7 linked regions of the Homo sapiens genome follow. The protein of the gene in region 5 purifies or fractionates together with the protein of the main gene of each other region. This does not show direct contact. Each region holds a gene or a part of one and is shown on either strand. Other genes may lie near its edges. The genes, in order: SYNJ2, SNX8, MLYCD, AP2A2, SNX9, FCHO2 and ECI2.

The links.
Region 1: the proteins of SNX9 (region 5) and SYNJ2 purify together in Homo sapiens (co-immunoprecipitation; one large-scale study listed by IntAct). This does not show direct contact.
Region 2: the proteins of SNX9 (region 5) and SNX8 purify together in Homo sapiens (pull-down; one study listed by IntAct). This does not show direct contact.
Region 3: the proteins of SNX9 (region 5) and MLYCD purify together in Homo sapiens (co-immunoprecipitation; 2 studies listed by BioGRID and IntAct, with this or other methods). This does not show direct contact.
Region 4: the proteins of SNX9 (region 5) and AP2A2 purify together in Homo sapiens (co-immunoprecipitation; 3 studies listed by BioGRID and IntAct, with this or other methods). This does not show direct contact.
Region 6: the proteins of SNX9 (region 5) and FCHO2 purify together in Homo sapiens (co-immunoprecipitation; one large-scale study listed by IntAct). This does not show direct contact.
Region 7: the proteins of SNX9 (region 5) and ECI2 purify together in Homo sapiens (co-immunoprecipitation; one large-scale study listed by IntAct). This does not show direct contact.

Annotation. Positions count from the first base shown.
Region 1 is NC_000006.12:158,061,863-158,065,362, reverse strand, and holds part of SYNJ2 (synaptojanin-2), read right to left. Parts: intron 3,372-3,500; coding exon 3,199-3,371; exon of another isoform or gene 3,142-3,198; intron 1,573-3,141; coding exon 1,491-1,572; intron 763-1,490; coding exon 613-762; intron 538-612; coding exon 372-537; intron 1-371. UniProt on the Homo sapiens protein: Inositol 5-phosphatase which may be involved in distinct membrane trafficking and signal transduction pathways. May mediate the inhibitory effect of Rac1 on endocytosis.
Region 2 is NC_000007.14:2,269,442-2,272,941, forward strand, and holds part of SNX8 (sorting nexin-8), read right to left. Parts: intron 2,531-3,500; coding exon 2,409-2,530; intron 199-2,408; coding exon 118-198; intron 1-117. UniProt on the Homo sapiens protein: May be involved in several stages of intracellular trafficking. May play a role in intracellular protein transport from early endosomes to the trans-Golgi network.
Region 3 is NC_000016.10:83,902,115-83,905,614, reverse strand, and holds part of MLYCD (malonyl-CoA decarboxylase, mitochondrial), read right to left. Parts: intron 1-3,500. UniProt on the Homo sapiens protein: Catalyzes the conversion of malonyl-CoA to acetyl-CoA.
Region 4 is NC_000011.10:1,009,305-1,012,740, reverse strand, and holds the end of AP2A2 (AP-2 complex subunit alpha-2), read right to left. Parts: intron 3,414-3,436; coding exon 3,344-3,413; intron 3,059-3,343; coding exon 2,924-3,058; intron 2,194-2,923; coding exon 2,116-2,193; 3' UTR 501-2,115; downstream 1-500. UniProt on the Homo sapiens protein: Component of the adaptor protein complex 2 (AP-2). Adaptor protein complexes function in protein transport via transport vesicles in different membrane traffic pathways.
Region 5 is NC_000006.12:157,938,246-157,941,745, reverse strand, and holds part of SNX9 (sorting nexin-9), read right to left. Parts: intron 3,114-3,500; coding exon 2,999-3,113; intron 864-2,998; coding exon 772-863; intron 1-771. UniProt on the Homo sapiens protein: Involved in endocytosis and intracellular vesicle trafficking, both during interphase and at the end of mitosis. Required for efficient progress through mitosis and cytokinesis. Required for normal formation of the cleavage furrow at the end of mitosis.
Region 6 is NC_000005.10:72,987,041-72,990,540, reverse strand, and holds part of FCHO2 (F-BAR domain only protein 2), read right to left. Parts: intron 1,115-3,500; coding exon 1,040-1,114; intron 64-1,039; coding exon 1-63. UniProt on the Homo sapiens protein: Functions in an early step of clathrin-mediated endocytosis. Has both a membrane binding/bending activity and the ability to recruit proteins essential to the formation of functional clathrin-coated pits.
Region 7 is NC_000006.12:4,125,576-4,129,075, forward strand, and holds part of ECI2 (enoyl-CoA delta isomerase 2), read right to left. Parts: intron 2,257-3,500; coding exon 2,187-2,256; intron 663-2,186; coding exon 560-662; intron 545-559; exon of another isoform or gene 1-544. UniProt on the Homo sapiens protein: Able to isomerize both 3-cis and 3-trans double bonds into the 2-trans form in a range of enoyl-CoA species. Has a preference for 3-trans substrates.

The sequences.
Region 1 (3,500 bases), 120 kb from region 5:
TCCCAAAGCCAACATCACCTGCTAAGGGCCCAAGAGCCCAGGCAGCTGAGGAAGTTTCTGGAGTAGGTTAGCATTCAAAGGCACCGATGCGTTTAGGAGAGTGCACGGCCTCTCCCTGAGCCCGCCTGGTGTCTCTCGCTTCTCAGGATGGAAACACAGTCCAAGCCGAGACAGAGGAAGCGTGAGCTCCCAGGCCCAGCAGGAAAGCGCAGGCTCCCGGGAGAGGCAGTGACAGCTGCAAGGTGCATGGTCCACTGCTCAGATCCCAGGCACCTCTGCCACCCGCTCTCTGGATAGCACAGAGGCGGTGGGAAAGTGGGGCTGGGGAGCACCCTACCTCCCTGCCTCGCCCTGTCTGCGGCAGGCCCTACCCAGGAGCGCCGTGCTGTCCAGCAGCATGCCCCCTTTGTCTGCCACCTCCTCGCCGTAGACGTCCCCAACCAGCAGCAGCTTGATGGCCTCCTGCTTCACCCCGTCGAAGAAGTTGGACTGGATGGTTCGAGACATGGACCGGGCTCCATCCTTCAGCTTCCCCACCTGCCGAGAGCCCAGACCGCAGGCCGTGAGGGGGGTCCCTGGGGCCCCCACCCTGCCCCCTCGGCGGGGCCCTACCTTGGCCTTCCCTTCCAGGGCTCTGCTGCCTGTGAACACCTTGCTCAGGCTGTGGCCATTCAGAGACCACATGGCTTTGAAGGACTCCACAAAGCGGTCAACGATGGGTTTTGAACTCAGCCCCAGGGTCTTGAGCTGCAGATGCAGGACCTGGGGAGGAATAAGGGATGGCTGTCACTGGCTTCTCCCACAGAGGCCCTGCAGCCACTGTCCCAGGAGGTTCCTTATTCGGCAGCCTGTGGATTACGCTGTGCCTGGAAGACTCTGTGCCCCTCCAGAGGATGAGGAGTTCCCACAGCAGAGAGTGACTTCCCACATCTCACCCCAACTTTATCTATAGGGTCCACCCAAGCCCTCCTCTCACCCCCTGACACTTGAACGCCCCTGCACCCCGCCCCGCCCCACCCAATGCCAGAGGCTGAAGAGCAAACAGTGGTGGACAGCAGGGGGTGCTGACCCTACCCCCGACCCCCCAGCCAGGAGAGGTCAACCAGGCAGCTGGGGCCATGCAGACAGAGGTCTCCCTCCCCAGCTTCAAATCCAGCCTCATCCGGCCAGCCTCACACTGCCTTTGGCCAATGGTGCATCCACGATAATCATTACACACAACCGCTGTTCCCGAGGAGCCTTTGGGCCACCATGTCTGGGATGCATTTCACAAGAGGGTGTGAGAAAGTGTGCCTACGACAGAGAAAGCAGCCTCCTGGGGAACCCCTCTCTGGATGTCCCAGTGTCTCCCTGTCCACCTTCCCCATAGTCAGAAGGTTGTCTTGGTGATGCCACCCTCATCTTGCCGCTAAAGGTGCTCAGCCCAGCCTGTCCAGCTGAAGTCACAGGACCTGGCACAGATGGCCGAAAAGGCTGTGGCAGGGACGCACCTCGAGCGCGATGAAGCTCTGCACAGTGTTGGTTCGGTCCAGGCAGTCAAGACAGTTCATCCGCAAAGTGCCTTTCTGAAAACTTAGGACAAGAAGAAATGTAAACGGTTATATGTTGTTTTCAAAGAAGCAGTGGCCATAGCACAGAGGCCCATGTCTGACTTTTGACTCCCAAGGAAACATGGTTTTTTTTTTTTTTTTTTTTTTTTTTTTGAGACAGAGTCTCACCTCTGTCACCCAAGCTGGAGTGCAATGGCATGATCTCGGCTCACTGCAACCTCCGCCTCCCAGGTTCAAGCGATTCTCCTGTCTCAGCCTTCCAAGTAGCTGGGACTACAGGTGCGTGCCATCACACCCGGCTAATTTTTGTATTTTTAGTACAGACGGTGTTTCACCACATTGGCCAGGCTAGTCTCGAACTCCTGACCTTGTGATCCGCCCACCTCAGCCTTCCAAAGTGCTGGGATTACAGGTGTGAGGAAACATGTTCTAAGAGGGAACCCCTCACCTCCTCATCAATAGCCCCCCAGAAACCCCAGTGTCCATCCCAGTGGATCCCCAGCACTTCTGGAAAGGCAGGCAGACCCCAGGACACACACTCAGTAGCCTGCACAGCTGGGTCGTTTTACGTTTAGCTGGTCCTTGTTATTTATAGCAATTATGTTCTATAAAGTTGTAGGAACACTGAATTGGACATGAACACAGAACCATCGCTCCTAGGGGAAATATAGGGTTAGGTTCCTGCAAACCTCTGGTCACATTTTTATCAACTGATCAATATACAACCTTGTTTTATGTATGTTTCCATATAAAGACACCTTATTGAATATATATATTTGCTTAATTAACACTGAACCATGGCCGACAGCACTGTAGCTCATATAGGGACAAAGCTTATCTTAACGTGCATTTTCTCCATAAAGCACATCACCACCTTCTTGTGCTCAGAAGTACTAGACAGCTCTTCGGCACACTGCTTGGGGCCATTCTAAACCATGAGATCCCCGAACAAAGGGGGGCCCCTAACAAAGACCCCACAAATGTGAAAAACATGGTACTAAATCTTAAAAAGGAAACTTGTTTAAATACGAGGCCAGAGTATTTAAATACTCTGTCCAGCAAAAATGCTTTGCATACTGATTTTGGGGTTACAAATCAGTTTTAAGGAATAGGTAAATAAGCCAATATGGAATCTGCAAATAATGAGGACCCCCTGCATGTGACCTGAGGGAACTGGACTTCGTTTTTCTCCTCTGCTCTGAACAGGGAAGTCCATACCCTGGTCTCCTCTAGCAATCTAAGTCTATGCCAGCCATCCCACCGCGACTGTGGCCCTCACTCTCACAGGCCTGCGTCACAGCGTGGAGCTCCATGTTTTAATGCAGTCCCCTTTATTAGTTCATTTCTTTTGCCAGAAAACCATGACTCAACATCTCCTTGAGAAATTCAAAAGCCTGTCTCCTACTGTGGGAAGGGAGATGAGAAGCTGGAACCCAAGATTCCCGGCGTCGCCAAGCTTATGACCCAGGAAACCACAAGGGTAACTGAGTGGGGAGGGAAGGAAGCTGCCCCTCATAGGGCACATGTCCTAGACTGCACGGCCCCTCTGCCGCCTCACCCAGCAGAAGGCACAGCACGCAGCGAGCCTCACCGTGGACTGACGCTTCCCCCCAGCAGAAGACGCGGCACAGTGCGCAGCGAGCCTCACCGTGGACTGACGTTCTCCCCCTTTGTGAACACATCGAAGTCTTCCCAGTGCAGCTTTAACTGTGGCCTCAAGAGGGTCTCCAATTTCTCTAGCTTCCCACCTTTGGCAAACTGATGGAAGTCAAAATTGATCATAGGCGTGTCGCCCGCGTGGCAAGAAGCCCAGAGCAGCTTCTGAAAAGAGGAGGGGAGGGCGGTGAGGGGAGCAGAGGGAAGGGAGGACGAGGAGGGCAAGCTCCTTGCAGAGCTTGACCCGTGCGGCTAACCAAGGTGACTCGCCGCAGGACGTGCTTTAGCTGGAAG
Region 2 (3,500 bases), on a different chromosome or scaffold from region 5:
CTTCCCTCCACTATTGTCCCATGACCCTGCCAAATCCCCCTCTGCGAGAAACACCCAAGAATGATCAATAAAAAAATAAATTAAAAAAAAAAAAAAAGAAAAAAAAAAGAAAAATACCTTGGCCCTGGTAGCCAGCTTACAGTTCAGGAATTCGTCCCCGACGCACTGTGCTGACTCCTTTAACTTGTTCTGCACATCCTGCAAAAGGAAAACACACAGCTTCACCCTCTTCTACTAGCAGCAAGAAAGCTGCTGTGGGGTATGGGTCACTGTGGAGCGGGAGGTCGTCTTTCCTCAGGAGAAACACATTTCCATATGTTGGCTTTGACATTAGTATTCTGCAATCTCTTGACTCTCCCTTAGATGTTTTTCTCACCAAACAGGACAGCCTGGCTTCACAGCAGGAGCACCACAAACCTGCAGCCTCTCTCCAGAGGCACAGCCACTCCATCCGCAGACGGGGGGCAGCTCTCCAGAGAAACAGCCACTCCATCCACAGACCAGGGGCGGCTCTGCAGAGAAACGGCCCCTCCATCCACAGACCCGGGGCGGCGTCAGCCCCAGAGATACCTGAGACCCTGGTAGCTTCCAAAAACGCAATAGAACAGGGCAAAAGTGTCTTCCTTCCTGGGAATGCATCCATGGCGCCAGGGACACCAGAGCCCAGGGAGCTGCTGGGCAGAGGGACAGGCCCAGCCCCTGGCACCGGAGCCCTCTCATCTGAAAGAGGCCTCCTGGGCAAAGCCGTGCCTTAAAGTCAGGAGCCACCCAGGAGATACAAGGGGAAACCCTAATATGCAGCTGTTTGCGTGTCCAGGAATTCTCAGGTTTCAGAGATGCCTTAAAGATCATCTGACTCAACTCTCATTTTACAAAAAAAAAAAAAAAAAAAAAAAAAAAGACCTGAGGCCCAGCATGGTGCGTGCCTGTAGTCCCAGCTACTCAGAGCCTGAGGCGGGAGGATCGCTGGAGCCCAGGGGTTCAGGGCCAGCCTGGGTAACATAGTGAGACCCCATCTCTAAAAACAGAAAGCAAGCAAGAAAACTGAGGCCGGGAAGTGACAGAGAATGATACCTGTGGGAAGGCCACAGGGAACGTCCTGCCCCCAGAACAGGGATATTGCCCACCTGTGACCCACTGCACCCCTGCCCACCGCCCCTCCCAGGTCCTGCCACATTCCTCTGCTGGCAATGCAGATCGCCTCCAAAGGAAGGTTTCCAACCCCAGGGCTCAAAAGATCCCACTGCCTGCTCCAGACATCCCCGGGGGCATCCCAGGGACATCTCAGGCACAGGGGGAAGGCCCCTCTGCCTCCGAGAGGAACGAAGACAAAAGGAACCAAGGCTTGTGTGAAGTCAGCCTGGGAGAGGGGGTGTCTTCCTGCAGCAGGGACAAGGACAGAGGCCGTCAGGTCCCCATTCAAGACGGGGTTTCCCTGAAATAGAGGAGAGCCTGGAAACCTCTATTCCAGTGGAGCCCCCGCCCCTCCCCGCACAGGGAGAGGGTCCTGCAGGCACAGGTGGAGGAGAAGCACAGGACCCGCCTTCCCTGGAGGGGCTGGCAGCTGCTTCCTCCTCCAGGAAACAGGAGCTGGGCTGCAGGGTTGTTTTTTGTTTTTTTGAGACAGGGTCTCACTCTGTCGCCCAGGCTGGAGTGCAGTGGCACAATCACAGCTCACTGCAAGCTCCACCTCCTGGGTTCAAGCGATTCTCATGCCTCAGCCTCCCAAGTGACTGGGATTACAGGTGTGCACCACCATGCCTGGCCTCAGTTTTGTTTTGGTAGAGACGAAGTCTCGCTATGTTGTCCAGGCTGGTCTCAAACGCCTGGGCTTAAGGGACCATCCAGCCTCGGCCTCTCCGAGCGCTGGGATTAGAGGCGTGGGCCACTGTACCTGCGAACTGTAGCTTCTTGACACACAATAAGGCTGTGCCGCAGCAGCTGGGAGGAGGGAAGCCCCACTCAGACCTCTGACGGAGTGCATGTACAACAAGTTAATTCCCGGATGCAGGTGTGGGCTGTGGCTCTGACAAGGAGGCTCAGCCTGTGTTCCAGTGGTCCTTAGTCAGACAGGGCCTTGTTTTAAGTCAACACTTCTTCCCATCTGGAGTCTCTGGCACCTCCCTAAACCCTCCAAACCATCCAGCCTAAATCCTCAAAGTGACCACAGAGATCCATGATCTCCACGCGGATTTACAAAATCCTGCAAAGTCAACACCAGGGACACCTCTGAAAATCACATTCAGACTGTTATCTGGAAAGGAAAGAAGTCTTGTCCATGTCATTCCTGCTGGGCGTCCAAACAAGGGACCAGGAGGATAAGAAACCACACCTGAGAGAGGAAAAGGCGGGTCCGGAGGCTCGGGGACTCCCCGGGGCCGGGACATGGGCAGGGCAGACACACTCACCGAGCCGCTGAAGGACAGGAAGAGCTTGAGGACCACATCCTCGGAGAACAGGGGGTGTCGCGCCACCAGGTTGACGAAGCGCTTCAGGGCTCTCCTCCTGGCCTCGATGAACTCCCTGTCAGCTGGAGGAGCACACGGGGTCACTGGACAGAGTCCAGGGCGCCGGCCCCCATCTTCTGCTCTGGGCGAGTTCTCAAAACTCTCCCTAGAGGTGGCAGAGGGCCCAGCGGCTAGCAGAGGGCACTGGCTGGGCCCCCAGTGCTGCTCAGACAATGGGTCTGAAAAGGCCGCCCAGAGCAATAACCTCACCCCCAGAGGCCCCCTCCAGCCACACACACTTGGGTCCAGGAGCTGCCAAGGAAAACCACAGATCTGCTTGTTTCCATCGGGAGTCCTGGGAACCACGTGAGTGGTCACTTTAATCACCTCCGTTAAAGACATCTTCCATAATCCCCTCCTGGCACTTCTCACTGCAAACAAATGGGTTTTGCTACGCTCTAACACTAACGCAACCCAGGTCTTCTTTTCTTTTTTTTTTTTTTGAGACAGAGTTTCGCTCCTGTTGCCCAGGCTGGAGTGCAGTGGCGCAATCTCGGCTCACTGCTACCTCCGCCTTCCAGGTTCAAGCGATTCTCCTGTCTCAGCCTCTGGAATTAGCTGGGATTACAGGGGCCCGCCAACATGCCTGGCTAATTTTTGTATTTTTAGTAGAGATGGGGTTTCACCATGTTGGTCACGCTGGTCTCCAACTCCTGACCTCAGGTGATCCACCTGCCTCGGCCTCCCAAAGTGCTGATATTACAGGCGTAAGCCACCGCGCCCGGCCGAGTTTTTCTATTCACTGTGCTTATAACTTACTCTGCAAAGGATGCAATTACTCATTGCTTTCATTCGGGTTAAATATTTTCACTCCAAGGGGAAAAAAAGTAAAAGCATATACTGATGCATTCAGGACATTTCAATCTGAACACAAACAAAAATGGTATTTAAATACTTTTTTTGAGACGGAGTTTCACTCTTGTCGCCCAGGCTGGAGTGCAGTGGTGTCATCTCGGCTCACTGCAACCTCTAACTCCCAGGTTCAAGCGATTC
Region 3 (3,500 bases), on a different chromosome or scaffold from region 5:
GAAGGCGGTGTGATGGCTGGCATTGGAGCAGCCATCCTGGGCCACGACGTGGCTTTGGAGATGAAGGTTTTTCTCGGCAGAGCAACAAGATTCAAGTCTGAATCCACCAAGAGCACCAAAGAGCAGAATCAGCTCTGGGCTGCCCACCTCTAGACTTTCACATGACAGACAAACTTCTGTCATATTCAAATCACTGTTATTTTGGGTCTTTGTTACTCATAAACTACATAGTAACAGATCCACTGAACATTATTATTAAATAACAGTAAACATCTCAGGACATCTGATACAAGAATGACCTTCTGAATCTCTCTACAAGGGTCATAAAGAACACAATGGGCAACACCTATAAGAATGGCTTTACAACAGCTAGAATTTTTTTTTTTTTTTGAGAGATGGAGTCTTCCTCTGTCACCCAGGCTGGAGTGCAGTGGTGCAACCCTGGCTCACTGCAACCTCTGCTCCCTAGGTTCAAGCGATTCTCCTGTCTCAGCTTCCAAATTTTATAAAACAATTTTACATTTTAATCCCTGTTAAAGGGTGAAAGGACTCAGAACTTTGACGCCTGAGAAAGAGTTGCAGGTTTTGGGGTGATGGCTCAGAGAAGTTTTCGGAAGGAGATGAGGTCTCCTTTTACATGTTTAAGCACTAGGGCACGAAAGAGGCCACAAATTTGTTCTGTGTGACCCCATGGGGGCCGGGGAAGGAAATCTAGGACTGACTGGTGGAAGTCATGGGCAGTCAGATGTGGACTCAATTTAGTGTAAAGAGGAACTTTTGAATAGCTGGAGCTGTCCACAGAGGTCATCCTGGGAGACGGTGACCCTCAGCACTGGAAGCCATCAAGCACAGGTGGACAGAACTCAACGGAGCTGTTTGAAAACGGATTTAAGCATTAGATAGACAGCTGGACCAGAAGATCTTTGCAATTCCTTTTAACTCTACATTCCATGACTCAATCTCCTTTACTTGGTTGTAAACGCCATAAAAGCAGGATCCACTTCTGATTCATTTTTATAGTTCGCAAAGCATTCACTAATAGATTGATATCAAATGAAAAAGATGGAAAAATGGAATGAATCGTGATTAGGAAGTAGCAAGAGGGCAGGATGAAAGAGATCATTTGCTAGGTGACACAGAATGGCCCTTTGTAAAACTGTACTTTCTGCATTTGACTATAGCAATTCTTAATCTTCCTGGGATCCTCTCACACTCTTACGTGCTAAAAACCATAGGCCCTGCCCCCAAAACACTGCAAATACATTAGTAAAATTGTGCATACGTTTTCCTGGGGTACATGGACTCCTCTGATACTTATCTATGGACCATCCCAGGGGCCAGGAGGGCTTCTGTACCCCAGTTTAGGAACGGATGAGCTGAGCTCTGCGTAAGAGGTACTGGTATCTGTCTTACATTCGTGATATGAAAAAAGCTGGAAATACCTAGTTTTACTATCAATTTAATATTAATTATGAAAGAAATGGTTTGGCTGATGAAAGCTCCTCCCCTACAGATCTCTTCATTCTATTTTGGGCTCCTGACAGCTACAAAATGTGACACTGGTACACGAGAACTGGGAATCCAGGCTAAAGGTTAGAAGTCTCCGTTGCTCAGTTCTAACACCGGCAGCAGCTGTTCAGGCTGGGATGAGCCACAGCACGCGGCAACGTTGCCAGGATACAAACACCACCAGGGAAAGAGGCCTCTGCAACTGTACGTGCGTTAATTCAGGCACCATTTATCACCAATACAAGACTGAGAAACACAACTGCGGGGAATATCCTGGTGATGCTAAGGGCAGCGACAGTTCTCAGTGGATTCTGCTGGAGTGTTTCTTATTTTTTTTTTCAGAGGCAGGTCTTGCTCTGTTGCCTAGGCTGCACTTGAACTTCCGGGCTCAGCTGAACCTCCCAAGTAGCAGGGACTACAGGTGCGTGCCACTGCACCCGGCTCTGTGTATTGTGTATTGTTAATTCCATTGACTTGTATGACACCGTTTAGACCAGCCCACTTTTCCTTTTAAAAGAGAAACTGGTTCCCTCTCTTTTGAAGCTCTATCAAGATCTGCTTATTTTGGTATGTGAAGAAAAGTTACCTTCCCTTGTCCAGAAGCCCTGCTCTGGGGAAGGGAGGATAAAGTCATGGATGAGGGTAGCACTGCAGAGGCTGAGAAATTTGGGGAAAATTCCCACTCACGTAAGCTGACACTCCGCAGGTGTACACTTGATGCTATGGGTATACTGTCCTATCTAAAAATAAGTATTATTTAGCATAGGTAAGCACAGAATTTACTAGAACCAACAAGGAGTACTCAATTAACTAAAAGGCAGAGGGTACGCAGGTGTCTAGCATGGCCGGGTGGCTGTGGCAGTGGGAACCAGGTCCCTTCTCTAGTTTCTGTGCCTCTGTTAAGGTTGGAGCACCTCTCATTCCACCCTAACAGCAAGGTCCAAACTGCCCATGAGGAACCCTTTCCATGAATTAAAGGCCAACCTTCCTCGAGTGCCCACAAATCACTGAACCTCGCTCAGACCTTCCCCTCTACTGGGGATTCGACTCGGTTTCACTGGGATTTCACCTCTAAGAAACTGAAGTCATCAACCAACTGGGCCTCTGGAGAAAAACAAAAAGCCTATAAACCACCATCCCCCAGACACATCACATCCTCATACCCACACCTACCATGCAACCACAGGGACACACATACCTCCAAACTCCTCTACATTCAGGAGGCCACAAATCCAGGCAGTAACAAGCCTCCAAACTCACTCAGATCAGAGGAAAAGAACATTTTAAAAAGTAAGAACACAGCCAGGCACAGTGGTTCACACCTGTAATTCCAGCACTTTGGAAGGCCAAGGCGGGCGGATCATCTGAGGTCAGGAGTTCCAGACCAGCCTGGCCAACATAGCAAAACCCCATCTCTCCTAAAAATACAAAAATTAGCCAGATGTGTTGGCAAGCACCTGTATTCCCAGCTACTCAGGAGGCTGAGGTGGGAGAATGGCTTGAACCTGGGAGGCGAAGGTTGCAATGAGCAGAGATTGTGCTGCTGCACTCCAGCCTGGGCAACAGAGCAAGACTCTGTCTCAAAAAAAAAAAAAAAAAAATCAGATTAAAAAAATAGATCAGATCATACCACATTAAGTGATTCTGGTGAGAGGTTACAATATCAGATCCCAGTTGATAGTTTATAGGTACAGAACAATCTAATTCTATTCTAAGACTGATTTAAGCGACAGGGATTTTAAAAAAATTACATCTGGGCTCACACCTATCTATAATCCCAGCACTTGGGATTGGAGGATTGCTTGCTTGAGGCCAGGAGTTCAAGACCAGCCTGGGAAACGTAACAAGAAAAAACATAAACATGAACAAAAAAATAAACACAAACAAAAAACCGTAAACAACAAAACAAAAAACCATATATATATATATATATATATATATATATATATACGCACGCACACACACACACACACATATACACATACATATAT
Region 4 (3,436 bases), on a different chromosome or scaffold from region 5:
CCTGGGATCTGCAGTTGGGCAGGGCTGCCCCCAGCAGGGTCTGGGCTGGTAAGAGAAGCTGCCTCTGGCTTTGGGCCCCTGCCCTCCCTCCATTAGGACTGTTCCGTCTCTGGCGAAGCCCACCGTCCTCCGGGGGCCACCCCCATCTGCCCGAGAGCCCCTTCTGCACCATCTGTGGTAGGATCAACTGGAGGATCCCCACGGGGCCTCCCGTTCCCCAGGAAGGAGCCCTGGGCTGCACCTCAACACACTGTACAGTGGGGAGCCCTGCGGCCAGGCTGGAGGGGTTCCCGCATGACCTGAGTCCCAAAAAGCTCCACCACACACCCAGAATCAAACCGGCGGAGCAAAGGGCAGGTCACTTTCTGATGCCCGCTGCCCGTGAGCCCACTGCTGAAGGACAGGTCGGGGACCTTGGGGTCTGTGCCTCACGCGACCCCCGGGGAGCTATGAGGGTTACATGGGATGCTTTCCCCCCAAAGAAAGCGCGTGATCCGGGGTGCAGTTCTAGCCTTTATTTTTCTTTGACGAGGAGTGCCACACTGAGGGCCCCTCTGCAGCGCCGCACAGGGAAGCGGTGCCTCGGGGAGCAGCCTTTCCTCTGATGGCGGGAGGGGTCAAGGGATGCAGGAGATCCACGGCAGCACACGCAGCCTGCAGGCGCAGCACACAGGCAGAGCACTGCCCAGCAGCTGGAACATGAGAATGAGGGCCACACCACCCAGCTGCAGCACAAGCCCAGCACGGCGTGTCACGGCACCTGGCACCACCAGACCCAGAATGGCCTGTGCGAGAGGCGCACGCCACTGACGTGGCTATGCTGTGATCAAAGCCCGACACGCCGGAAGAAGAGCCGCAGACATTGTGGGGTGCACACACTGCAGGGGAGCTGTGGAGACCCTGATGGGTCCATGAGCCCCTGCAGCTGCCCCAGGGACCCGCACAGCAGGCAACTGAGGGCCAGGGTGAAAACCCTCAAGCACATGTGGCCACCCACCCTCCCTGCCTCCACAGCATGTCAGGAAGCCAGAACCTGTGCTGGGTGTGTTTAGGACAAACAAGGCCACCATCCTGGGGACAGAGCGCAAGGCCCCAGCCTTGGCTCCTAGGCCGGCCCCACTCTCTCGCCTCTCAGGTGTCAGACGTGCAGCCTGGGTGCTGAGTCCAGATGACAGGTGAGACACAAGCCGCAGGTGGCACATGGCATGCGGCCAATGGCCCCTTCACTTCCTGACCACACAGAGGCGTCCCTCCTCCACAGCCCCTCCAGGGACGACTGGACGGGGCCGGTGGAAGGACTCAGGCCTGCACCGTGGCCTGGGGACGCCCACTCTGACAGGAAAGAGACGAGCACACCTCTGAGTCTTGCGCCACCGGCCCACACTTTACCCTGGAGTCCTGGGGGCCCTGCGGGGCCGGCAGGACGCTCCTCCCCTGGCTGCACATCCAAGGCCTCGGCGACTGCAGGAGCATAACAGACGCCCTTCACAAACAGGAGCTGGGAAAGGAGAACAGTTACATCCGGCCAGGACACGTGCTTTTGCCAGAAGTCATTACAAATACAAATGTTTCTAAATTCTAGATTAAAATCCTGCCTGGGAAAACAGTCCAGCTGGGACTGCAGCAAAACCAGGGTCAGCTGTGCTCCTCCCAAGGGCCCAGGACGACGCCAGGTGTGCAGCCACCAGGACGGCCACACACCAAGGCTCAGCCCACGCCATGCACAGTGGCACTGCTGCTCCCAGAGGCTCCGAGGCGGGGTGGGCGGCAGCACGGGCCATCTCAGTGACACTCCCACAAACGCCACGTTCACGCCAACTTCTAATTTCCCTTTAATTTGTAGATTTAACCACAGAACTGTCTCGATTTTTATAAAAATTGATCCCAAGATCCACCTTCTGCCGTGGCTGCCACAGTCCAGGCTGAGCTTTTCCTCCTGAGCCACACACGTGTGTTCCCGTCCAGCCCAAAGGGGAGAGGTGTGGGGCGGCGGGGCGGGGAGGCGCCTTGTGCTGTGGCACTGGACACGGTGCTCATCTGCAGGATGGCCACGAAGACAAACGGCACAGACGAAGACAACACAAGACACACGAGCCTGGTCTTCCATCCTCAGGACTAAAACTGCGCTGAGAGCAATTCACATAATCTCTGAGAAACGGCTTCCTTACTTGTGCGCAGCGTGAGCCGGTACATCTGAAACAGAGAGCACAGCAGGTCAACGGGCACGCCGAGGCTCACACAGCCCTCGGGTCCAGGATCCGCCATGCAGAACCCTGTGGGCCATGCCCAGGGACCACTCTCTGGAGGCACCCACAACTCGGCAGAGGCCTGAGCACCACACACACTGTCAGCATGAAAACTGAGGGCTGGCATGGGAGCGCCTGGCGTCTCGTACGTAGCTGGCGGGAGTGCAAAGTGGCACGGCCACCTGGAGAAGCTGTGGGATGTTCTTGCAGCACTAACCACACACAGGCCCTGGGCGACAGCAGCACTCCTGGGTGCCACCCAAGTGAAACGGAGACAGGTGTCCGTCGCCAGAACGGGACGTGGTGAGAAGGAACAACGCGGTGACAGAGAGGAACAGCTGGGAGAGCCACCGCCCAGGGCCAGGCTGCTCCATGGTGGGACGATGCTCCACGGTGGCCAGCTGTGGGGAGGCTGGGATGCAACCATGTATTGACAGGGTGGTGGTTAAACAGGCACACAACATCTGTCACAACTGACTGAACTGCACTAGGGATGATGCTCCACGGTGGCCAGCTGCGGGGAGGCTGGGAGGCAACCATGTATTGACAGGGTGGTGGTTAAACAACATCTGTCAAAACTGACTGAACTGCACTAAAGAGCTACACATCTCACCACGTACATTGTGCCAGAATAAAAAGCAACTCAAGTGTGTTCCACCATTTCCTGAGGGCCTGACCTGGGCTTGCAGGTTCGGCTCCAAGCGCAGCAGGCATCCAATCTGGGTGGTTTTCGTGTGGATGATTCCAGCTCCCACGAAATTCGCAGGATTAGGATCAACTTCTTCAAGAAGTGCAGAACCAAATCCAATGATCTGTCCAAAGAAACAGGAGAATGAGGACCCTGGCGCGGGGTCGCGGGCAGCGTGTCCCCCGGGGCCGCCCCTCCAGACCCTGGCGCTGGGTCGTGGGCTGCGTGTCCCCCGGGGCCGCCCCTCCAGACCCTGGCGCTGGGTCGCGGGCTGCGTGTCCCCCGGGGCCGTCCCTCCAGACCCTGGCGCGGGGTCATGGGCTGCGTGTTCCCCGGGGCCGTCCCTCCAGACCCTGGCGCGGGGTCACGGGCTGCGTGTCCCCCGGGGCCGTCCCTCCAGACGTGTTACCTTGGCTTTGGTGACTTCTGTGTCCATTGGGTGCTTTGCTTTGAAGATGTTCTGCACTTCCTGCTGTGGACTGTGAGAAACAGCAAAGGCGAG
Region 5 (3,500 bases):
AGGCGTTTTCAGCAGTGTCCAGCTCGCAGATGCCACCAGTATGGCTGAGCAGAGGGCTTGCTCACCACTCCCCATGAACATGGCTTAGATCCCATGGCCAGAGGGGAGCTGGGTAGGCAGCAAGGCCGCCAGCGGAGGCTGGATTCTACATTACAGACCTTACCTGCAGGTGTCTGAGGGAGACATGCTACTAGATTTTTGTTTTCTATAGACTCTGGTAAACAACAAAATTACTAAGCAGAGGTAAGAAAAATTTAAGTTTTCGTTATTGTTTTGTGAATAAAACCATCCCACATCTCGCTTTTTTGGTTTTCTCTCTGCGATTTCCATGGCGCACTGTGAAAACCTCATTCACAAAAAGCAAAGGCTGCCTTTGGTTTCCTGTGTGGTGCCAGGCTCCTGTTCCAGCTGCCAACGGAGTCCCAGGGACGGCTGGGTGACCTCATCTCATTCAGCACCGTTCCTGGTGCACAGAGGCACAGAGAGGCTGTGACGGGGGGAAGGAGCTGCACAATAAGGAACTTCTTGGGGCCTTGCAACTAGCATCCAAGACCCCTGCTTCAGAAGAAAATCTTTTTTAACCCAGTGTTATCCAAAAAGCAAAGGGCAGATGGAATTAGGAGATTAAAAAAATCCTGTCCAAAATTTAGGCTCCTTTGGTTTATTACTTAGGATTAAAGAATACAAACAGATTAACTTTACATGGTCAAAGTGGTTTACCAGGAACCCTCTCCTCAAGCACATGCGAAAGGCACGTGGACGCCCACTCACCGTTTCGTAAAATTGCACTTGCTGCTCCAGGTACAGGCGGATGACACTGTTGTAATCATAGATCCGGTTACTGTGAAAGTGATTCATCTCAGCTACAACCCAAATCAGAACATCAATCAGTTTTCCCTCAAGTTTTCAAATGACAACACCTGGTTTCTCTGCTCAGTTACAATTAATCATCAACCTGACCTAATCTGGTTGGCTGCTGTTGTCAGTTCTTGGTAAATCACTTTACTAAGAGGTTAGAAAAACAAGTTGAGCTGGGCGCAGTGGCTCACACCTGTAATCCCAGCACTCTGGGAGGTGAGGTGGGTGGATCACCTGAGGTCAGGAGTTCAAGACCAGCCTGGCCAGCATGGCAAAACCCCATCTCTACTAAGAATACAAAAATTAGCCGGGCATGGCAACAGGTGCCTGTAATCCCAGCTACTTGGGAGGCCGAGGCAGGAGAATTGCTTGAACTCAGGAGATGGAGGTTGCAGTGAGCCGGGATTGCACCACTGTACTCCAGCCTGGGTGACAGAGCGAGACTGTCTCAAACAAAACAAACAAAACAAAACAAGCTAATGACAAACATTACTTTCCAGTAAATGAATGACTTTCACTGTCTTGCATATTCAAAACTATAAAATCCAATACAGATAAATCACCCAAATGCAGCCTATTACTCTAACAGAATCGATCAAATAGAAAATACTTGGTCATATTTGTTACAGATGACTGCAGTTCAAAGCCTCTGGTGTGTCTGCACTGGACCTAGCAGGCAGCTGGGGTCCCTGCCCCGCTCCCTCCTGCACAGCAATTGCTTCAGCAGGTTTCTGGTGAAAGGCTGGGCAGCGTGTGGGACAGCGGGAGACCCTTCTTCAGTACGGGAAGCCTTGCTGCCCCTGAGCACCAGCGACGCTGTCAGAACTCAACCTCTCACAGGGCAGGAGGACTGGATGCTGAGGGACAACTTTCTTCATGTTTGCTGAATACATGGATTCCTTCTTTCTCTGTCCCCCCTGCCCCTGCCCCCAACTCTAGAGGAGTCTTCGTCATCAGAGGACCTCATTGCCTCCCTCGGATGCCTCCTATGCCGCCTTCTCCCAAACCCTCCAGGCTGAGAAAGCCAGCGGCTGCACAGATTCCCATGACATGCAAACTGTTCTACATTTTACATTCAGTTACTTGAAGTTATACAAAGCTTTGTATTTCTCAATTTGGATAACCTCAAACACAAGTTCAAAACCAAACTCCCCATTTCAAACCCTTCAAAACCCGAAACTTCAATCAGGGTTCCTCGTTTTTGCCGTAGTGGCCTGGCTCTGGACACCTCCCTCATCCTTCTCTTTCTCCCATGAATGCCCCAGTCTTGAAAGCTGTTCCTTGGAAAAGCCTGCAAATGTGCTTCATTCTCTTCTCCCCAGTACCACATCTTTAGGCCCTCAAAGCTCAGACTACAACAGTGAGATGGTCTTCTGGCTGGGCTCTTGGACAGTGTCTGCATCTTCCAATCTCCCCTCCATAACCAGCAAATCCTTCTCCCTTGAGGATTGATTTTTTTTTACTCCCTTTTAATGGCTTCTTAATGCCTGCATCAAGTCTAGAGCTTTCAAGTTCCTTCACAATCAAAATTTATTTCCCAATAACCTCTAAGTATGTTTTACTCTTTCATGCCCATGACACAATCTAGCACCACAATTTTGTGGCTTTTGTTCCTAACAGAACACGCTCTCCATTCTCTGCCCATCCAAGTGCCATCCACCCATCCGCCAACAGGAAAAATCCACTTGCTGCCCTCATCTGCTCAAAAACACTCAAACCTATAGAAATTCATCTTTTTTTTTTCTTGACACAAAAAAATTGTGCCTAAAATGACACACCCAAACCCCTTCACATTCCATGATCCCAAGGCACGCAGGTTACAGACTGCTAAAAGCTGGGCTCTGGCATTTAATAGAGCATTATGATACCACAGATTACAAAAGGAATCTTAAATGTCTCTCAGAAATAATAAAATGTACAGTTTTAATCAAGCTGTCATCTATAGCCAGATAAGGTGGACAGGTGAAAAATTAAATAAATATTACAGATTTTCATCAGCACCGGGATCCTGCAAACGAGGGGCTTAAAAGGTCTCACTTACTTAACTGCTGCTCACATCTGGATTTCTCTCTATCAAGGGAAACTTTGCTGGGGAAAAAAAAACTTCCACCAGCACCTCATAAGGACCCTTTCATCTTACCTTGCAACGCGTAAGACATGATGCTGACTCTCTTCACCATGTTCTGTTTGTCTTGTAGGGTGATTTTACTTGTTGCAACTAGTTTGTCACTTTCTTTCACTTTTTCTATTGCTCCCTGTGAAATATAAAATGCAACAGTATGAATAAAGCTGAAATGATTAGTCATTAGTTTAAAATATAACAATGCTAATATATTCTATAACTGATTTGCTACTGAACAGGAAATACCTCCACAAAATAAGAAGAGAGGAAAGCATCTAAATTTAACTTCCTTCAAGTCCCTTGGAAGCAAAAAGGTTGCTATTCTTGACAAATGTCACTAAGCTAAAATGAACAGTTTTATGCTACAACAAAAGAGAAAAGCAAACAGCACACCATCTCTGTAATATTCAGAAGCCGCTGCCATTTGAGGAGTAGCACGTAATGGAAATCAGGCATTAGCAGGTTTTGGAAGTCATGTGGCTAGGTACAGGGCAGCATGTGCACACAGGCACTCTCTCTC
Region 6 (3,500 bases), on a different chromosome or scaffold from region 5:
AAGTGACAATTTGCTAATTTCTCTGTAGATGTTTTGAATACATCCCATACTGGTGCAAATGTTCTAAGAAAATAAAAAATATGGGAATAACTTATTAAAAGTAAAAAAGAAAATTAAGGTTCTAACAAGGAACCAGTGGAAATAATAGTGGTATATATGGCAACTTTATTTAGGCAAAAGATGAAATTAAAATAATGAATAAAATGATTGACAGACTGACCTTGAATTTTTTTTGTCATTGGTTATTTAAAATATTTTTGGACCTCAGGAATATAGAAATGGGTTAATTACATTATCACAAGTCTTAACCCTCTTAATTATATTAATTTCTGAATTGATTTAGTATTTATACTTGTATCAGAAGCCTTTCTATCACTGTCTATTGTTAAAAATTAACTATTATCAAACTTCAATTTAAAACAAGTATTCCATTTAAAATACTTCATCAAAAATAAAGTTTCTGTGAATTTAAACATGCAAAAGCCCAATTTTTAGATAATTATTCTTTCCATAATTGTTATGGCAATGAGCACATCTCATTTTAAATGTATTCTTTTCATTATTTTCATTTTTCAAGGAACACATTTTTAATACAAATTTTTAAAAGGAAGATTTAATGACAGTCTATAAAATCACAGGAGACATTTTTAATGCATCTTAATCATTTCAATAAAGTTTATCTTAAGTGAGTTTTTAAAGATCACTGTTAAACTACAACAGAATTTAAATAGGAACTTACAGACAACTAGAATAAATACATTGCATGTGCATAAGATAACATTTATAATCTCAAACACTATTGAATGACTAGTTTTTAAAAAGGGAAAAAATAAATTTCATTTAGTTTTGACTGCATTGACTGATTCAGCAAGTTCAATTATATTTTCTATCAAGTGAAGAATATATTAATATTTACAGATACTTTTAAATAAGCATATATTTTACTATGCTTTTGAACTGTTATGTCCTCAAAAGGAACCTAGAATCCTTAAGAACTTTGCCTAAATAAACACTGAAAAAGAGGAAGAAATTAACTCACCCAAGTTGTGAATAATTGCTTGCAGATTTTGCTAGTTTTGTCATTGACCTGGAGTATGCCTCCTCTATGGTAGCTCTGTTAAATCAAATATCCACATCATAATACTTCTTATTTAGTGACCAAAAACAGCAAAGTTATCAAAATACAATTAAAAGTGCAAAACAAAAAGATACCTCAAAAATTACATGTTAAAAATAAGTACATATATGTAGTCATGAATTTCCGGCCTATCTTCAAATGTCCTTTCTGGTATAGAACTAAAATAATTTATATCACACACACAAATTTTTTTTTAAAACAGTCTTGCTCTGTCACCCAGGCTGGAGTACAGTGGTATGATCATAGCTCACTGCAGCTTTGACCTCCTAGGCTTAAGCAATCCTCCCACCTCAGCCTCCTGAGTAGCTCACACTACAAGCATGCCCCACAACACCCAGCTAAGTTTTGTATTTTTTTGTAGAGATGGGGCCTTGCTATGTTGCCCAGGCTAATCTGGAATTCCAGGGCTCAAGCAATCCTCCCACCTAGGCCTCCCAAAGTGCTGAGATCATAGGCATGAGCCACCACGCTCAGCCACAGAAAAAATTTTAATGGAATCACAACTCTTTTTATCTTTAGTACCAATGCTTATCTGAACAGGAAATACATGAGTGCTACTTCTTGTATTCTCTCTGTCTCTGTAAGCTGGTTCACTGTGATAAGTGTGTCATTTGTATTTAATAATTCTTTGTTGTACTTAGTTTTATTATTCTTCAACACTGTGATGCACATTTAATAGAACAAGAGATTAATGACAGTCATTTGCACAAAACTAAATATATCATCAAGTCTGAAATCCTGAACTTCATTCATGGCTTAATTTATTTTGTGATCAGATCTAAAATATTAGCAAATATTTCACACTAGAAAACTGTGTTTTATATAACTACTGTTTAGCATATGAGATTTTATTCCGTAAAAAACATCCACAGCCATTAAATATAGAATTCTAAAAGACACAAATTATCCTACAGACATGTAACCTATAAATACAGAATACACATTTTGTATGGCCTTCTTTTTTTGAGACGGAATATGGCTCTGTCACCCAGGCTGGAGTACAGTGGTGCAATCTTGGCTCACTGCAACCTCCGCCTCCCGGATTCAAGCGATTCTCCTGCCTCAGCCTCCCGAGTAGCTGGGACTACAGGCACCCGCCACCACACCCAGCTAATTTTTGTATTTTTAGTAGAGACAGGATTTCACCATATTGGTCAGGCTGGTCTCAAACTCCTGACCTTGTGATCCGCCCCACTCAGCCTCCCAAAGTGCTGGGATTACAGGCATGAGCCACTGCGCCCGGCCTGTTTGGCCTTCTTAACACTACAAAACTTATAGTTTTACCTTTTGCCTGGCTCTTCTCAATGTGTGCTACCCTTAATAGGGGAACATTCTACAACCACCATCATCCCTCCATTTACTTTGATTGGTCCAACCAACTTTCTGCTTCTAATGTCTAAATCCAGATCTTCACACTACTCTTGCACTGACCCACCTGTTCAATATCTAACTGCCCCAAACATAATTAAGATATGTGAACCACCTCAAACTCAGAATATCTAAACTAATCTCCAAACTCTTTCCCAACCAAATTTGCACAAAAACCAGCTCTCTAACAAAAAGGAAATATTAACAGTAACTGCCTCTCGCTGATAGTACTGTGACTCTTTCCTGCTCCTTTAAGTTCTTCTGTCATTTTAAAATACTATTACTACAAGAGTAATACTTTGTTCACCCAAAAAAGTTAATATTAGTATATCAATGTGTGAGTTTAACAGCAAGGTAAAGAAGTTCAATTTCCAGTACAGATTAAACATCCCTAATCAGCCAGGCACGGTGGCTCACGCCTGTAATCCCAGTACTTTGGGAGGCCGAGGCTGGCAGATCACCTGAGGTCAGGAGTTCAAGACCAGCCTGGCTAACATGGTGAAACCCCGTCTGTACTAAAAATACAAAAATTAGCTGAGCATGGTGGTGGGTGCCTGTAATCCCAGCTACTTGGAAGGCTGAGGCAGGAGAATCGCTTGAATCCGGGAGGCGGAGGCTGCAGTGAGCCAAGATCATGCCACCGCACTCCAGCCTGGGCAACAAGAGCGAAACTCTGTCTCAAATAAATAAATAAACAAACAAACATCCCTAATCAAAATATCAGAAATGCTCCAAAATCTATATATTTTTTGAGGACCAACATGATGCCAAAAGCAGAAAATTCCACACCTGACCTCATGACAGGTCATGGTCAAAATTCAGTCAAAACTTTGTTTCATGTAGAAAAATAGTTAAAATAGGCCGGGCACGGTGGCTCACGCCGGTAATCCCAGCACTTTGGGAGGCTGAGGCAGGTGGATCACGAGGTCAGGAGATCGAGACCATCCTGGCTAACACGGTGAAACCCCATCTCTACTAAAAATACAAAAAAATT
Region 7 (3,500 bases), about 150 Mb from region 5:
AGACCAACCAGTGAGACCTATGGGTCAACCCTGGTTTGAATCTTGTATTCTGGACAGTGAGTTCAGGGCTGTAAACCAGCCGCAGTCTTAGAGATTAGGTTGGGTGACTGAGCACATGCTGCAATATCACAACAAGTGGGAATTACAGATTTGGCAGGAATAAAGAGAAAAGCCTTCATGACCTCCTCCTGTGTTTACAAGACTCCTCCGAGTCTCCTACCTTCAGCGTTCATGGAAATCTCCCATTCCTCTGGCTGGATGAGAATTTGCTAAATTCCTCTGCCTCAGTGCAAGATAATTTTGTTTACAACTATAGCTCACTTTTATGTTTTCCAGTCAAATCTCATGAGACCAGCAGGATGAACAGGTAACAGAGGTCAAAGAGAAAGAATGAATGCCCACCTATGGATGGAGGCAGTTTAGAGAAATATGCTTGTCCAAAGTCACAATTAACTGCACTGACACAGAGAAGCAGATATTGCACTTTTGCTCAACTAAATACCACTTTGATGACTAAGAACGGGCCCTCTGGGATCAGACAAAGGTCAGTAACTCTTACCTCAGTAAAACGGCATTATTTTTAGCTTTCTCCTCTACTCCACCAGGGGGAATATCAGTGAAGTTAGTCAGATCATTCCCACTACTGTAATAGTCACCATTTCCTATAAGTAAGAAAATCAACAGATCCCTCATTCAATCATCCTATAATTCTTGAGTATCTACTGCATGCCAAACTCTATGGTTAGGCAAGGGAAATACATTGGAGAACGAGCAATGGTTCCTGCCCTAACTTACAAACTAGTGAGTACGCTGGACACTGATCTATAAAAACACACCGATAAATGTAGCTAATGCTACTGTTGAAATAGAGGAGTGGTGCGTCATGAAATGAGGGTATGTACCAGGAGGGTTGGTCTAATCAGGGAGTTCAGGAAAGAACTTTCCTAAGGAAGCGACAACTGAATTGAGATCTGAAGGAGAGGCCAGGTGGGCTAGAAAAAGAGGGCTGGGAAGAACAGTTTACACAAAGGAACAGCCTGTGCAAAGGCTCTTTGGAGAGGTTATCCCCACTGTAGATGAAGTAAGAGCCACTGTAGCTGACTCAGGGAAAGCCAGGGGGAAGTCGGTGCAGGATGAGGACTGGCAGAATAGACCTGACAGTGCTTTGTAGATCCCATGAGGAAGTTTTTTCTTTATTCTAAGAGCCACTGAAAGTATGTTTCTGAGTGTGTGTGTTTAATTAAAGTACAATTTATATACAATAAAACAACCAGTTTTTAAATGTTCATTTAGATGAGTTTTAATAATTTTAAATACCCACAAGATCACCATCCAAAACAAGATACAGAACATCTCCATCACCCCAAAAGTTTCCCGTAGGCTCCTTCCTAGCTATCCCACCCCACCTGCTCCAAGGCAATCACTTTCTGACTTCAATTTCCACAGAGAAGAACTTTTGTCTACTGTAGAACTTTCTACAAATGGACTCATACAGTATGTACACTCCTGTCTTTATTTTGCTGAACTGTGTTTTAAAGATGCATCCACATTCTTGTGTATATCATTTATTCCATTTTATAGCTGAGTATTCCATTGTACAAATAGTCAACAATTTGTTTATTCATCCATGTGTTTTTGAACATTTGTTTTCTGGTTTTGGCCGTTATAAATCAGGTTACCATGTCTGCTCCTGTAAAAGTCTTTTGGTGGACATATGTGTCTTAATTGATGTTGGGTAATTGCGAAGGAGTGGGTATCTGTGTTTTTTTAAACATTTTTTGTATATTTATAAATCAGAGTATGACAGTACTGGAAAAGATCTTAGAGCCTTTTTTTTTTTTTTTTTTTTTTTTTTTTGAGACAGAGTCTCACTCTGTTACCCAAGCTGGAGTGCAGTGGCGCGACCTCGGGTCACTGCAAACTTTGCCTTCCAGGTTCAAGTGATTCTCCTGCCTCAGCCTCCTGAGTAGCTGGGATTACAGGTGTGTGCCACCATGCCCGGCTAATTTTTATATTTTTAGCAGAGATGGGGTTTCACCATGTTAATCAGGCTCATCTCAAACTCCTGACCTCGGGAGCCACCTGCCTCGGCCTCCAGGTCTTAGAGCTTTTTAACTCAATTTCCTATCTATTAAGAGGCCCCTCAAAATAGAAATTTAATTAGGATGCCTGAGAAAATGTCTTACCTGTTAAAACAGTGATGATTGAGTCATCCTTGCTGGCAGCTTTAAGTGCACGCATAATTTCATGATACATCTGTGTAATGGGAAGACAAGGAAAAGAAAAGAACTCTGAACACAGGAATCATCAATCAATGGACTCAACAAATGTCAGGCTGCAAGCTTGCTCTCAGCAAAGTGCCTAACATTTATTTTGGTTGTATTTTATAACCAAAAAGGTGGACCAACATAACTGAAGGAATTTTTATTCCTTTCACAGTTACCTGGTGCATATTATGTACCTGGTGCTATGGCAGGAGCTGCAGGCTATAAACCACTTTTTTTCCAAAAGGGACCAAGAAAGAAATAGTCCTTGAGCTTTTGGAATTAACAGAGGACTTAACATGTTCAATTTGGAATTAACATGTTCAAATGAGGAGGGGGTTGGAAAGTACAAAGTAGCAGGGAACTCAGAGGAGGTGCTGAGGCTTATCTAGTGTGGGCAGAGTGGGAGGTGGTCAGAGAAAACTTTCTACAAAGCAACGTCTCTGTTGTGACCTCAAGGAAGCCCCTGGCAGTCTGGGAAGTGTTAGTGACTGCCAAAAGGCTGGAATTTTCAAGACACTGTAATGGTATTCAAGGAAGGTGGCTCAAAATTTTAAATCAGCAACATTTCTGAAAATCTTGGACAAGCAGCTATATAGCTTTTAATGCATTTAAAACAGGTGCAATTTCAACCTTAGATGAGATTTCAGTGTGGGAAAGAAATGAGGAAGAGGGCTGATACTTATAGATACAAATATACTGGAAAAGACACATGGACTTTACATAAAACAGCCTGCCCTCCGTATCCACGGGTTCCACATCCATGGACAACCAATCACAGATCAAAAATACCTGGAAAAGAATTCTGTATCTATACTGAACATGTACAGGCTTTTTCTCTTATCATTAGTCCCTAAACAATACAGTATAACAACAATTTAATATAGCATTTACATTGTATTCAGTATTATAATAACTCTAGAGATGATTTAAAGTATATGGGAGTGTATATAGAGGTTATATGCAAATATTATGCCTTTTTATGGGGGACTTCAGGTTCCGCGGATTTTGTTGTCCACACGGAGGTCCTGGAACCAATCCCCATCGGATACCAAGGGATGACTGTACATGAATAAGCGTTTAAGCATTTCTCCTGAGGGAAGTGATAAGGAACTCATTCTATCATTATTATAGTTATGATAACACCACACAGCAGGGCGACTGGTGAGACCAGGATTAGGAGATGGATTATCAGGGTTCCTTCCTTCCAACTGGTGAGACCAGGATTAAGAGATG